4 linked regions of the Homo sapiens genome follow. The protein of the gene in region 2 interacts with the protein of the main gene of each other region in a pairwise test. Each region holds a gene or a part of one and is shown on either strand. Other genes may lie near its edges.

Region 1 (2,956 bases), on a different chromosome or scaffold from region 2:
CAGAAGGGTACTAGGGATGAGGGATAATGGTCTGGAAACAGTATGAGGACACGTGCACCACCTCCAGGCCCAGTGGGACACTGGGTGTGGAAGGGAAAATGCCACCACTACTGAGGTGGTAGGAGAAGCAGAGTCCTCATAAGAAACCAAGTCTGAAGAGCATAAATGTGAAGGGAACGTTCAGAGAAGAGGTTGAGGACACAGAGAATTTGACAAATGACTGGCCATCAGTTCCAGAGGGCACAGTGGAAGAGCTTCTAGAGTTGGAAAAGGTAGGTAGATGGAGACAAAACAGAGTGGAGATACATGGTTATTAAGTGTAAAAGATGAGATGACTCAGTAGTTTAGGACTAATTGTGATGATTGATATCAACATCAATAAGATTAAGGGTATGAGATTCGTTCTGTTGTTTGTGGTACGGAGGGATGTGCATCTGCGGGCATTCCTCAAGCCTGCCGATGGATGTGCATGTAGGAGAAAGTATACGGAGTAGAGGCAGTTTTAGAGTTACAAGTTAGACCAATCTCCAGGCTGTTTGTTTGTTTGTTTTTAAGAGACAAGGTTTTGTTCTGTCACTCAGGCTGGAATGCAGTGGCTCAATCACAGCTCACTGCAACCTCAAACTCCTGGGCTCAAGCTATCTTCCCGCCTCAGCCTCCCTTGGAGCTGGGACTACAGATGTGCGCCACCATGCCCAGATAATTTTTACATTTTTCAAATAGATGGTGTCTTGCTATTTGCCCAGGCTGGGCTCAAACTCCTGGGCTCAAGGGATCCTCCTGACTTGGCCTCCCACAGCACTGGGATAACAGGTGTGAGCCTCCAGGCTATTTTGAGAGAAGTCTTGCACACCTACTTCAAAGAATTTAAATGAGAGAATGAATGTAAAGCAGTTAGCACGGGACCCGATGCTATAATAATAGTTATGATACTACTATTGTTGCCAGGCACAATGGCATCCTTACTCAGGAGGCTGAGGTGGTAAGACTGCTTGAGCCCAGTTCGAGACCAGCCTGGGAAACACAGCAAGATTCCGTTTCTTAAAAAAAAAAAAAAAGATACCTCATTCTTGGTTCCACAGCAGCAAGCTCCAACAAGAATTTATCCAGCACCAAATCTACATTGGTCCTGAACAACACAATCCAATCACCAACATACAAAACCAAAAAACCAAAAATATTTTATTGCTGAGTCATCCTGGGGTTCCATAAAGGACCCCAAGCCTTGCTTGGAGTCTATAGCTTTGCTAGGACTCCCATGACATCAGGATAGAGATTGAGGCACGGGGTCCTTTGGGTTCCGATTAAGGAACTATCTACTCTGATTCTGTTGATCTTATTAGTCCCTCCAGGTCACCTCTACTTCATCTGTCCGATACCTGTGGAAAAACAGAAGAAACATGGTGGAGAGCGAGCCCTTAACATCCTTCATTCTTCTCTGCCCTCATGTTCCTGGACTCTTCCCTGCTGTTTTTGTCTATGTCCCAATAATCTACCCTCACCAAGAGGTGAATCACTCACCTCTGTGTAACCCCAGAATCACTGAGTGGGGTCCTGTGTCCAGCCCGAAACATCTCCCAGCCAGCCTGGGCTATCATCGCTCCATTGTCAATACAGAATCTGGGATGCAAGAGAGATGAAAATTGGGATCTAAGGGTGGAAAATCACTATAACAGGAGAAGTAAAAAAGAAACCAAAGGGAAAGTGTCTTTACCTCTCATCTGTAGCAAAAAGCCGGGCTCCACGTTCCTGGCACATTGTTGCCATCATCTCCTGTAGCCTCACATTACCTACAAAGAGGCAGGGAACAGGATTAGCTTAGTTTTAGCCATCTCTTCATGGTCCAGCAGAACACGTCATGTGCACTCACTTAGAACAATGACATAGGGGATTAGGGGCAAGGATTGGGAAGCCTACTCCAAACGCTTAATGATTTAGAGTACCAGGAGGAAGACGCATAGTGTTAAGAATAGGAAAGAGGAACACTTTTCAATAATACATACACCCCACTCCTCCCACAATGAGGGCCTCCTGGGAGCCACAATGTGCCATGGCTCGCTCTGTGATCTCTACCAGCATTGCAAACACAGTTTCCTGTCAGGGACAGATAAGGAGAAAATATTAGAGGGGCATCCCAGATTAGTTCTGCTCTACAATATAAAACCTTCAGCCCCAACTTTCTGTCCCAGTTTTTTACTGCATTACCTGCAGGGAGAAACACAGATCCTCAGGAGTACACTCGCCTGTGGCCAGCATCCGATGGGCTACATCCTACAATTAAAGGGAAAAACAAAAGAATCAACAAATCATGGTTTTGGGATTACACGAGAGCAAAAATTAATGCATTCGGAGGGTCATCATGTTTCACCACAATTCAAGTTACCAGCACATCCTGTACCACATTCCCTTCACTGGCATCATGGCATAGAATGAGCAGCTTTCATTTAAGATGCAATCATTACTTTTTGAATACTTGTCCTGACATCTCTCACCCCTTACTTATCCTGCTTAATTTTTCACCTGTACTCATCATCATCTGGCACTTCATTATTTTCCTCTTTCTTATCTCCCCCGCCCCCCATTTAGAATCTAAGCTCCATGTAGACAGGGATTTTTGTTTTGCTCCATGCTGCATCTCTACTATCTAGAACAGCATGTGGCACACAGAGATATTCAATGAATACCTTCTAAATGAATTTACCCAGCACATGATATGGACCAGTACTGTGCTACATGAATATACTGAGCTATACGAAATATAATCGTAAGTAAAACAGATATGCTTCATTTAAAAAGCATGAAAGTGCCCGTCTCATCACCTCTCACACTCACCTCAATGAAAGACAGGATCCCTGAGAATGAGACGTCCATCCCCTTTACAGTGTATGGCAGCTCAACTAGCTTCTTGCCTCTATGTGGGAATAAGCGTACGAGGCACTAAGCCTACAGTCAGCTG
Region 2 (2,940 bases):
GAAGACGCATGCCACCACCTGGCTGATTTGTTTTTTGTAGAGACAGGGTCTTGCTATGTTGCCCAGGCTGGTCTCAAACTCCTGGCCTCAAGGGATCCTCCTGCCTTGGCCTCCCAAAGTGCTGGGATAACAGGTGTGAGCCATTGCGCCAGGCCCTCTGGGCACTTTTGGACAATCTCAGCTTCTTGGTGAGGCCTGAGGACAGGTGGGCAGACATGCTACCTAACTGGCACCTTGGCTGTTGGCTGGGTCGGTCCGAACGGATGCAGCAGGCATGTTCCCATTACCGGAGTTCACAGCCCTGAGTCTTCCCAGGTTCCTGTTGCAATCTGAGACTGAAAGGTGACCAAGACAATTCTCTCTTGAGCCGGGCTATTGGAGACGTCACAAAACCCAAAGCAGGCTTGTTAAATGCACCTGTCATTTATTCTGACTGAAACCAGGGACAGACAATCTCCATGATGCCACTGCTTTCAAAGATTTAGAAACCACAAAAACCATTTTGAGTTATATTATTACTTTATTTTCTTTTTTTAAAATGTAGCATTAAAGTCATCCAACATACAGATATTCCTATGGCTCCTGGCACATTTTACTCTCTCTAAAGTCAGGTATTTTAATTATGAGATGAAGAAAATCATCTCATTAAAATGGCAACATTTCTGATAAATGTTTCATATTTATGTGATGGGTAATTGACTCCCCATCTACCCCTCCAGTCCAGAGCTACAAAAGACAGTGCACAACCACAGCTAACAGGTGGTGGGGGTGCCCAAGTAGACAGGGCTGCAGAACAACAAGCAACGGGGTTAAACTTCTCAAACAACAAGCAACTTCTTTATTTGTACAGAGTAAGAATATAGAAGAAAAGCATCATTTTCCTTTTTAGCCCTTTTATTAGTGTTTTGCCTCCACCCAAGTTACTGCATACCAAGCAGCTAATAAAAACCAACTGACTTAAAGTCTCTGAAATGCATGCAACTTAAAATTCCCTAAAGCACACATCGGTTCCGAGTCTGATTTTTACAGGGCAGAGGCTACGGTGCTGCTGGGTTACCAGGGGTGTCTGTCATGCTGCTGGGGTTTGAAGTCGCTGCTGCTGTGGCTTCTGGCTGCTGGGTTTCTGTGTGGGGATCTTCTGCATTTCCAGCATTTTTCTTGCCCTTGTCTGCTGCCACGGCACCCATCTCCATGATTGCCTGCAGTGGCTGATCTGCTTCAAGGTTGCTGGGCTGGAGTTCATAGACCTGGACTTGACCTGGGACATCAATGGCTTTCTGTTCAAGTTTTTCCAAGATGGTCTGAACCTTCCTGACACCGTCTCTCCTGGCCTGACGCACATCGGCTCGTCCCTCGGGGTCCACTGAATCCAGGGCCAGCAGCTCTTTGGTCAAATACTCTTCGATCATCAGGTACTTTTTGTCAGTCTTCTTGCCTTCAAAGTTGTCTACAGCCTGCTCCAGCCCCTGTACCTTCTCCAGGATGGCTTCCACTTTCAGCACTCCTGGATGTTTTGGGGGAGCCTCGGCTTCTCCTGGTTTTGGAGGTGTAGCTTCTGCAGGGGCAGTGCTGGGGGCTGCCCTCTCTTCTGTAGCCACACTCTTGGGGGAAGAGGGGACAGCAGAAGGGCCAGGGCTGGGAGGAGGACAAGGAACTGGAGCAGGGGGAACTTTCACCTCTACCTTCTCAGAGGGAGGTGGGGGCTTCTGGGAAACAGGTTTAGAATCCACCTCTTTGCGGATCACTTGAATTGGGATGTGTCCAGGAGGGAGTTCTGGTCCAACTGGGCCTGGCTTACTTTCTGGTTTGTTTTCAGGCTGGGAAACAGGTGCAGTTTCTCGATGGGTCATGGGCTGCTGAAAAAAGGACACAAAAATATATTTTTAATAACTGACTGAAAGTCACAGAAATTGTTTGTAGCTAGTACAGATTAGAAAGAAAACTGAGAAATGGCTTTTTAAAAAAAGTTTAATAGTATAAAAGATTTTCAAAGTCAATCAATGGCTGTTACAAAATAAAAACATGGTATTAATCATGTATGTAACCCAATCATTAGTCAGGCTTCCATTGATCACCCCAGGCTATTTGTCTATTACCTCTCACTGAATTTCTCTGTAGATGGTATTCTTAATGGCAATGAAAAGAAACCCAATAAAATTTTCAAAAATGAAAATAGCTAACCTGGGCAATATAGTAAGACCCCAACCCTACAAAAAATCTTTAAAAATTAGCCAGGTGTGGGAGCTTGCACTCGTAGTCCCAGCTACTCAGAAGGCTGAGGCGGAAGAATCGCTTGAGCCCAGGAATTCAAGGCTGTAGTGAGCCACGATTATGTCATTGCACTCCAGCCTGAGTGACAGAGCGAGATCCTGTCTCAAAGAAGGAAGGGAGGGAGGGAGGAAGGAAGGAAGGAAGGGGGGAAGGAAGGAAGGAAGGAAGGGGAGAAGGGGGCAAGGGGGAAGGGGGCAGGAAGGAAGGAGGGAAGGGGGAAGGGGGAAGGAAGCAGGGAAGGGGGGAAGGGGAAGGGGGGAAGGGAGGGGGAGGGAAGGAGGGAAGGAAGGAAGGAAAGAAGGAAAAAAATAGCAAAAACTCATGCTGACTGCTGAACTAGGCTGACTCAGAGCAGAGTCCTGAGTGACTCCAGCTCTCAGGTGTTGCAGCCTTGGAGTCGCTGCCTCTGGTCCTTCTTCCTTACACTGTGCAGACAGTCTGCTCACGGTGTGATCTTCTTGTCTCCTGTTTTAGAAAAGATACGATCTTCTTTTTTTAAAACCGTGACAGCCTAGTAGTTTCTGCCCAGACCAATGTATTTTTTTAGGATTAGCCAAGATGCTCTAAATGGTTAACTCCAGAACAATTTTGCTTCAGGATAGCTGTGCTGTAGCCTAACATTCAGCAATGACACAGCGCCTCTGTGCTAACCTCTGGCTGCACAGGTTT
Region 3 (3,500 bases), on a different chromosome or scaffold from region 2:
AATAAGATAAATTCTACTATTTAATCAGTGTTTGCAAAATGCTAGTTCTTCCTATTGATGCTTGGATATACAAAATTCTTCCTTCAAAAAATGTGTCTCAAGATAAAAGTTTAAGAGAAAAAAAAATTAGTAATTCAACATGAGGTTAGATCATTATCTTAATTCCCTAATAAGTGAACAGTCCTACCTCTGCATCAAACTTAGTAAATATTGATGAACCTAATATTAACTTTTAATCTGTTGTTTTAAATTATTTGTTCTGTTAACATGATAATCAAGATCTAATAACATTAAGAAAAAAAAATGCCTGCAATGCTATTTCCCAAGATAGCCAGTTCATTTCATACTTAAGGAGTAGGTACTTACCTCTGAATAAAGAGGTGGAGGCAAGAATCGAAACTCCTGGATATATGCAAACAGTGGTCCTTGAAGGGCTCTCTCAAAGTCATCACAAGCACTCACTGGTGCAAGATTGTTCCGCCTTTGTTCCTCTGTTACCACTTCTGCATAGCTGGGTGGTGCTGAAGGAAAAAGATACACGCAATTCGAACAGCATGTTCTTATGCATGTCAAAATACACAGAATAGTAGGTATTAAAAAGCAACGTCAAGGTAAAATAATTATTGTTTGGTGATCAAAACTATGAAGACATATAATCAAAACTGAATATTAGGGGCACATCTACTTTCTTTAGGAAAAGATTATGTTCATCTAGGGTCATAAAATATCAGAGGCAAAATAATTTTCTTGATAATAGTAGTAAGAGATTAAGCTTAGACGTGTATTATCAAATTACCTTCAGGTCTTTCAGGAAGTGATAAACTGAGCCAGTTCATATTCATGCTACACTGACTGCTTACACTTGAGGTTCTGCTACCAAATGGATGTAGAGGAATGGTACCGATGACAAGTGGCAAATTAAGAAATAAATCCATAGCTCCAGGAATATCCACATATACCTAAACATTGCAAAGAAATATTAAGTTTAGAATGCCAAGTATGATTTCCTTTTCAAAAACTCATAACCAATTTTAATGTTATTTGAAACCCCCATTTACTTCATTTTTAAACTTACATACATGAAAAGTTTCTCTTTTATGTATAATTCTGTATAGTACATTTACATATAAGGTATAATTGTAAGTCAAACTATATAAAGAGTTATGTATTTTATATGTCACTATATATGGAATTTAAAAAAATCAAATCCTGGATGTAAGACAAAACTATGTCATAACTTTAAGACTTAAAAACAAAACAAAAAAAAACACCAAAAACCTCTTGGGCCAGGCACTGTGGCTCATGCCTATAATTCCAACATTTTGGGAGGCCATGGTGGATGGATCACTTGAGCCCAGGAGTTCAAGACCAACCTGGGCGACATGGTCAAACTCCATCACTACAAAAAATACAAAAATTATCCAGGCATGGCTATAGGCACACCTGTAGTCCCAACTACTTGGGAGCTGAGGTGGGAGGATCACTGGAGCCCAGAAAGCAGAGGCTGTAGCGGAGCTGAGACTGTGCCACTGCATTCCAGCCTGGGTGACAGGTGTTTCAAAAAAGAAAAAAGAAAGGAAAAAACCTCTTAAATGTGTACATACCATTAGTGAATATTCCACGCGGATTATACTACAGTCGAGGATAGAGGGAGAAACTGGTGGAATTTTCAGCAACTTGCCATTCCACGTCTCTGTCTTTCCAGATGATAAGGATTCCCCACGCAAGTTAGCCACAAGCTGTTTTACTTCCTTCATTTTCCCTTTGGCATAGAAGGCCTGTGTTTGGTAAATGGCTGCCTTTGGCACCACCATTCGGGAAGAGCAGTTCTCAATCTCAGCAAATATCTGAATTGATTCACCTAGAGAGGGAAAAATATATACATATCTACTGTTAGAAAAAAACAACAAAAGAAGTCAAGATTCTTAAAGCTAAAGTAAGAAAGTGCAACTAACATACATGAAAAGATGTCCCAGGAACTGCAAATAACTTGAGTCATAGAAATGAACTAATCAGTAGCTATTTGAAAAAGGAAACTACATTCTACTTTGTGAAAAAAACAAATGGATAAGCACAATTTGTTATTTCACAAAAGAATACTATATTATGTTTATATTTAGTAGTCATATTATAAATTTAAACACAAAAGCTAAGTGAAGAAAAGTTTTTTGTGGGAATCTACCTCTTACATACCTGGGGTATAGCCCTTCCTTTCAATTTTGGCACTTAAGGATATTGGGCCTGAGGTACAGAACCAGCAACAGAGTGTCTTTTCTTTTGTGCCTGCTTGGGGTGACTGTAAGAAAAAAATTAAGAGAAAAAGGTCAGTGTATGGATTGGTACAATCAATACCAGAATATTTTAAAATATAACCCTAAATTTATGGAAAATTAAAAATTACAACTGGTTTTGCTTTTTTTTTGTATCCAGACATACTTCTTATTTTTTAACTAACCGATGGTTTTGAATTATACCATTACTTTTATTTTCATATAAATTTCCATTCAATTAGAAAAAAAAGGTAAAGGGTTTACAGCCTATCCCATAAACATAGTTTTTTAGCTCACACTATTTACAAATATAGTAATCAAAAACCAACCAAATAAAAAAAACCCTTTCCACATTCCATTTAAACTGCCTTAAAAAGGCAGCAAAGAAAGCAATCTGATTATAATTCCAAATGTTAACATCTTTCTCTGAGACTATTAAAAAATCAATATGTAAAAAAGGAAAATGCCCATTTCTTATGTGCTTTAAAGATGTTACCATTTGTTTAAATCAAATAAAGTTTTAAGTCAAATTTGAATTATTTTCAGACAAATGCAATTAAAAATAGATTTCTTTAAAAAAGGAGTTTTTTAATGAAACTAATGATTCCCCATTATTTGACAACTATCCCTCTATTGGAATAACAAAGTATAGTACAAATTTTAGATTATGATATTGTCAAGTAAGTGATATTGTATTATAATAAAAGATACTACTGCTCTTCTTCCACTCAAATCATCCAAGGACCAGATCTGTTTTTTGTTATGGCTGTCATACTCTGAGTAAGAGATACTTCATATCATATACTGGTCTTAGTTTTATATTTACTTAAAGGTATACTACAATGTCAAAAATATGAGCATATTTTTCATTAATTTCAGTGTTCTTGACTGTATTTAAGAAAATGTATATTTATGAAATTTTAAAAGAAAACCAGTATTTTTAAATTATGACAACTGCATAGTTTAGGTGATTGATTATTCTTTAATATTTATATGCCAAAAACAAAGAATAAATAATTCAGTCAATTCTTACCAGTAATGAAGGAGTGTTGATATCTATATGCTCAAAGACTGTAAATTCCTTCTTTAATTTTACTGGTAGTAGCCAAGGCCTGTGCAATTCGGCTTTCACCCAATAGCGCACACTGCCATGTCGGCCTTCGAATGAGGTAGCGAGTGGTCTGTGCAGAATATAAAGGTCAATATATTAATTTTATACCTCTTTCTAAC
Region 4 (3,500 bases), on a different chromosome or scaffold from region 2:
TGTTTAAAACACTAATGTGATGCCAGCACCATCCCTAGAAATTCTAGTGATTCTGTGGAGCCCAGGCATCAGCAATTTTAAGACCTCCTCAGGTGATTCTAAAACGCTGCCATGTAGATGACCACTGGTCCAGAAGTTTTTGCCAAGATTCCTTCTATTGCTTGTTTTAAGGACCTATGGTATTAAAGCTGAAAATGCATCTTAGACATTTTGCAAAGGTGGAGCCCTCATCTTTACCTTTACAGCAGAGGTTTTTAACTTTGGATGAATCTATTAATTCCCCTCAATCATATACAAACTGTTGATTGAATATGAATATGTATATGTATTTGTATTTTTCAGGAGGGAGTGTCATCTGCCTTTATTAGGTTCTCAAAAGATTTAAGAATGCTATTTTAAAAGCAAATATTAGGTTTCTGACGTAATAAATTTAAGAAAATTAAAGAATGAATGGAAAATAAATTTGGTCTCATCAGCACCTTTGCTATAGTTTGGATTTGATCACACCCACTGCCACCTAGTGGCTATATATCCTTATTGCAGGTTTAGTTCAGATCACATTGCCCATCCTCTGAAAACTGTTGAGCAATAGATGTGCAGATTTCAGATCCAAGCATCAAAGTAAAAGCTTTCTCTGGGACTAGGATTAGTACCAGTAAGAGGCTATCTGGAAACACTCACTACAAGAGATGACTTCCCAAGCTGTACTTGTTAAGGAGACTGTCCACTCAGATATTTTGGATTCATACCCTTAACTGGGTAAGGATATTACGGTTTCCTAGTTCTTACTGTTGTTAACTATTTGCCTTGGCTTGAATCTTGTTTTTCTCTCTTACTAATCATGTGACCTTGGGAAAGTTACTTAACCTTTCCATTCCTCACACAAAATGGGGATAATATAAGTACTTCTAAGATTGCTGTGGAGAATAAATAAGAAAATATATGTAAAAGGCTCAGCATGACTCTTGGCACAGAACAAGATTCCAATAAATATTTAGGTTATATTACTGTTATTACTGATTTTTAAATTATTATTAACATCTCAGTGACCTTGTTCAAGTTACTAAATTTCTTTGAGCTGCATATATTGACCCGTAAGACAAGGAAAATAAGCCCTGCCATTTTCTTCACAGTTATAGCTATGATAAGTACAAAAAGTAAAAGGCATATTGTTATTTTATGGCAACTCATCATACATCCAGGGAATCTACAGAGCACAGGAAAAGGTCACTCAAAAATACAGATGTTAATTCTCACCCTCAGGAAGGAGCTCTTTGAGATCCCAATAGTTGAGCAGGCTCTACATTGGGGTACAGTAATTTCTTGTCACATATCTAGCATCCTACTCAGCCTAAAGTTTCCCACCACGTGGGCGAATGGATGGCCATACCCTGCTATGGATGCTGCAAGCTCCTTTTCCGGTAAGAGAATTATACCAACCACTCACTAGGTCACAAGTGCCTGAAATTGTCAGTCCTCATCCAGCCCAGACACTGACCGGCAGCAGTCTTGCCCATTCCAAACTCACCCCAGGGAGAGAGTCCCAAAAATCTTTTGCCAGCCTGCCTGTCCATGAGAGTCCCTCATCACACCATCATGGTCCACAACCTGCCCCACCAGAGCAGAAACATCCTGAAACCTCTCACCAGCCTCAGCAAAGAATCAAGGTGCCCAGCTGTTACTTACCTGGAGTCTGCTTGGCCGTACGCACAGGAGTGTAGTGGTTTTTGGAGGACGATCTGACCGGCGTGTTCTCTTTGGGAGAGGTATCGATAGCCGAGATAGTTTCTCTTTCACAGTGTGCTATGGGGATTGGTCCCTGTTGTCTTAAGATGTCAGCCAGAGCCCTAAACAAGGAGGAGATCACATAATGAGATTCACTGAGCAGGTGTGCACAACCATGAGGGGAGTTGGCTTACTTTCATATGCCCTTTGATTTACAGAGATGCAGGAAGAGACAGAGACAGCATTCAGCTCTCAATAGTCAGCTACATCTGGTGTTGGTCTCAGGGGGGACACAGGGTAAAGGTTACCATGCCTGGAGGTACAGACTAAAAGGCTGGGACTACGGTTTCTTTCTTTAATTTATTTCACATCAGTAAACTCTGAGCCCTTTCAAAATACTGGCTCCCCAAATATCCACCTATGCCAGGCAGGTATCTATAGCAGCTGGCCAGTGGAATGCCACTATGGTGAAGGGCTGAAACCATCGGCCTCAAATTCAGCAGCAGGTCACTAATATCAGGGGACCACTTCATCATCCAAAACTACACACTGAGTATCATGTACTAGATACTGGAGACCCAAATAAGTACAACACACAGCTCCTGCTATCAAGGAAGGGTGTGATTGAGCTGCAAAGACAGGACATAGAGATGAAAAGATAAAAATCAAAACACGTGGATGGTGCAGACATTGAAGACAACTGGAGTTTAGAGGAGGGAGCAATCACAAACACAGGGGAAAAATACACAGGAAGAAAGAGAGACAGGCAGAGACTCTGCCATAGCAGGAGAGACCCGCCCCCCTGCAAGAGGTCCAGTTACTCAGAGAAAGCAGCTTTTGTTAACTCAGCGCCTAGCTTCAACAACCAAACATGCATTGACTGACGATTCAGCATGCATCAGTCATTGAAGAGACACAGATCAATGGGACCCAATTCCTGCCATCTAGGGGTTCATAATTTAGGGGGAATCGCTCTCCTATTTGCTTTCAAACAGGATGCCCTCTGTGGGTGTGACATGTGAGATACCCACTGGCAGTGGGAAACAGATGAGTGTGGACAGCCACAAGAAACTACACCTGGATACTGTCACTTCAGATCCAGGTCCCCAGTCCTCAATGCACTCCCGTTTTGCACATGCCAGGCAAAGACTATTCCATCTTCTCGAGGGGTGTCTCTGATGGGTGGGGCCCTGCCCACCCCAAGGCTTCCCTCTTACCAGGAGTCCAGCTCCAACACTCTGCCCCCATGAAAAGTGACAACTGCAGCAGTTTAAAAATGCATCTGAGTAAATTGTGGGGGAAAGAATAGTTTCTTCACAAAATGGTCCTGGGACAACTGACTGGATCGCCACATGAAAAAGAAGGGAGTTGGATCCTTACCTCACACCATATAAAAAACTAACTCAAAATGGATTATATACCTAGATATTAGTCCCAAAACTGTAAATCACACTGAGATACCTTTTCATACACACTAGGATAGCTATAACCAAAAAGCCACATAATACCAAGTATTGGCAAGGAGGTAGAGAAATTGGAGCCTTCATACACTACTGGTGGAAATGGAAAACCCTGCAATCCCTTTGGTAAACAGTTTAGCAGCTCCTCAAAACTGCAATGTTCCTTAAACGCAGAATTAACATATGGCCCAGCAAATCTACTCCTAGGTATTCCCAAGAACAATGAAAAATATATGTTGCATTAAACTTGTGTACAAAGGTTCATAGCAGCAGTATTAATAACAGCCAAAGGGTAGATACAACCCAAAAGTCCAT

Evidence for each region. The genes of interacting proteins can lie anywhere in the genome.
Region 1: the proteins of BAG3 (region 2) and OSGEP interact in binary tests that used the Homo sapiens proteins (3 or more experiments, as listed by UniProt).
Region 3: the proteins of BAG3 (region 2) and ARRDC3 interact in binary tests that used the Homo sapiens proteins (3 or more experiments, as listed by UniProt).
Region 4: the proteins of BAG3 (region 2) and SHISA6 interact in binary tests that used the Homo sapiens proteins (3 or more experiments, as listed by UniProt).

Annotation. Positions count from the first base shown.
Region 1 is NC_000014.9:20,445,901-20,448,856, forward strand, and holds the end of OSGEP (tRNA N6-adenosine threonylcarbamoyltransferase), read right to left. Parts: intron 2,912-2,956; coding exon 2,833-2,911; intron 2,272-2,832; coding exon 2,206-2,271; intron 2,095-2,205; coding exon 2,004-2,094; intron 1,791-2,003; coding exon 1,715-1,790; intron 1,621-1,714; coding exon 1,522-1,620; intron 1,380-1,521; coding exon 1,340-1,379; 3' UTR 501-1,339; downstream 1-500. UniProt on the Homo sapiens protein: Component of the EKC/KEOPS complex that is required for the formation of a threonylcarbamoyl group on adenosine at position 37 (t(6)A37) in tRNAs that read codons beginning with adenine.
Region 2 is NC_000010.11:119,675,380-119,678,319, reverse strand, and holds the end of BAG3 (BAG family molecular chaperone regulator 3), read right to left. Parts: intron 1,857-2,940; coding exon 1,038-1,856; 3' UTR 501-1,037; downstream 1-500. UniProt on the Homo sapiens protein: Co-chaperone and adapter protein that connects different classes of molecular chaperones including heat shock proteins 70 (HSP70s), e.g. HSPA1A/HSP70 or HSPA8/HSC70, and small heat shock proteins (sHSPs), e.g. HSPB8.
Region 3 is NC_000005.10:91,373,318-91,376,817, forward strand, and holds part of ARRDC3 (arrestin domain-containing protein 3), read right to left. Parts: intron 3,452-3,500; coding exon 3,304-3,451; intron 2,297-3,303; coding exon 2,194-2,296; intron 1,862-2,193; coding exon 1,605-1,861; intron 960-1,604; coding exon 797-959; intron 560-796; exon of another isoform or gene 522-559; coding exon 367-521; intron 1-366. UniProt on the Homo sapiens protein: Adapter protein that plays a role in regulating cell-surface expression of adrenergic receptors and probably also other G protein-coupled receptors.
Region 4 is NC_000017.11:11,261,713-11,265,212, reverse strand, and holds part of SHISA6 (protein shisa-6 isoform 1 precursor), read right to left. Parts: intron 1,848-3,500; coding exon 1,687-1,847; intron 1-1,686. UniProt on the Homo sapiens protein: Involved in maintenance of high-frequency synaptic transmission at hippocampal CA3-CA1 synapses.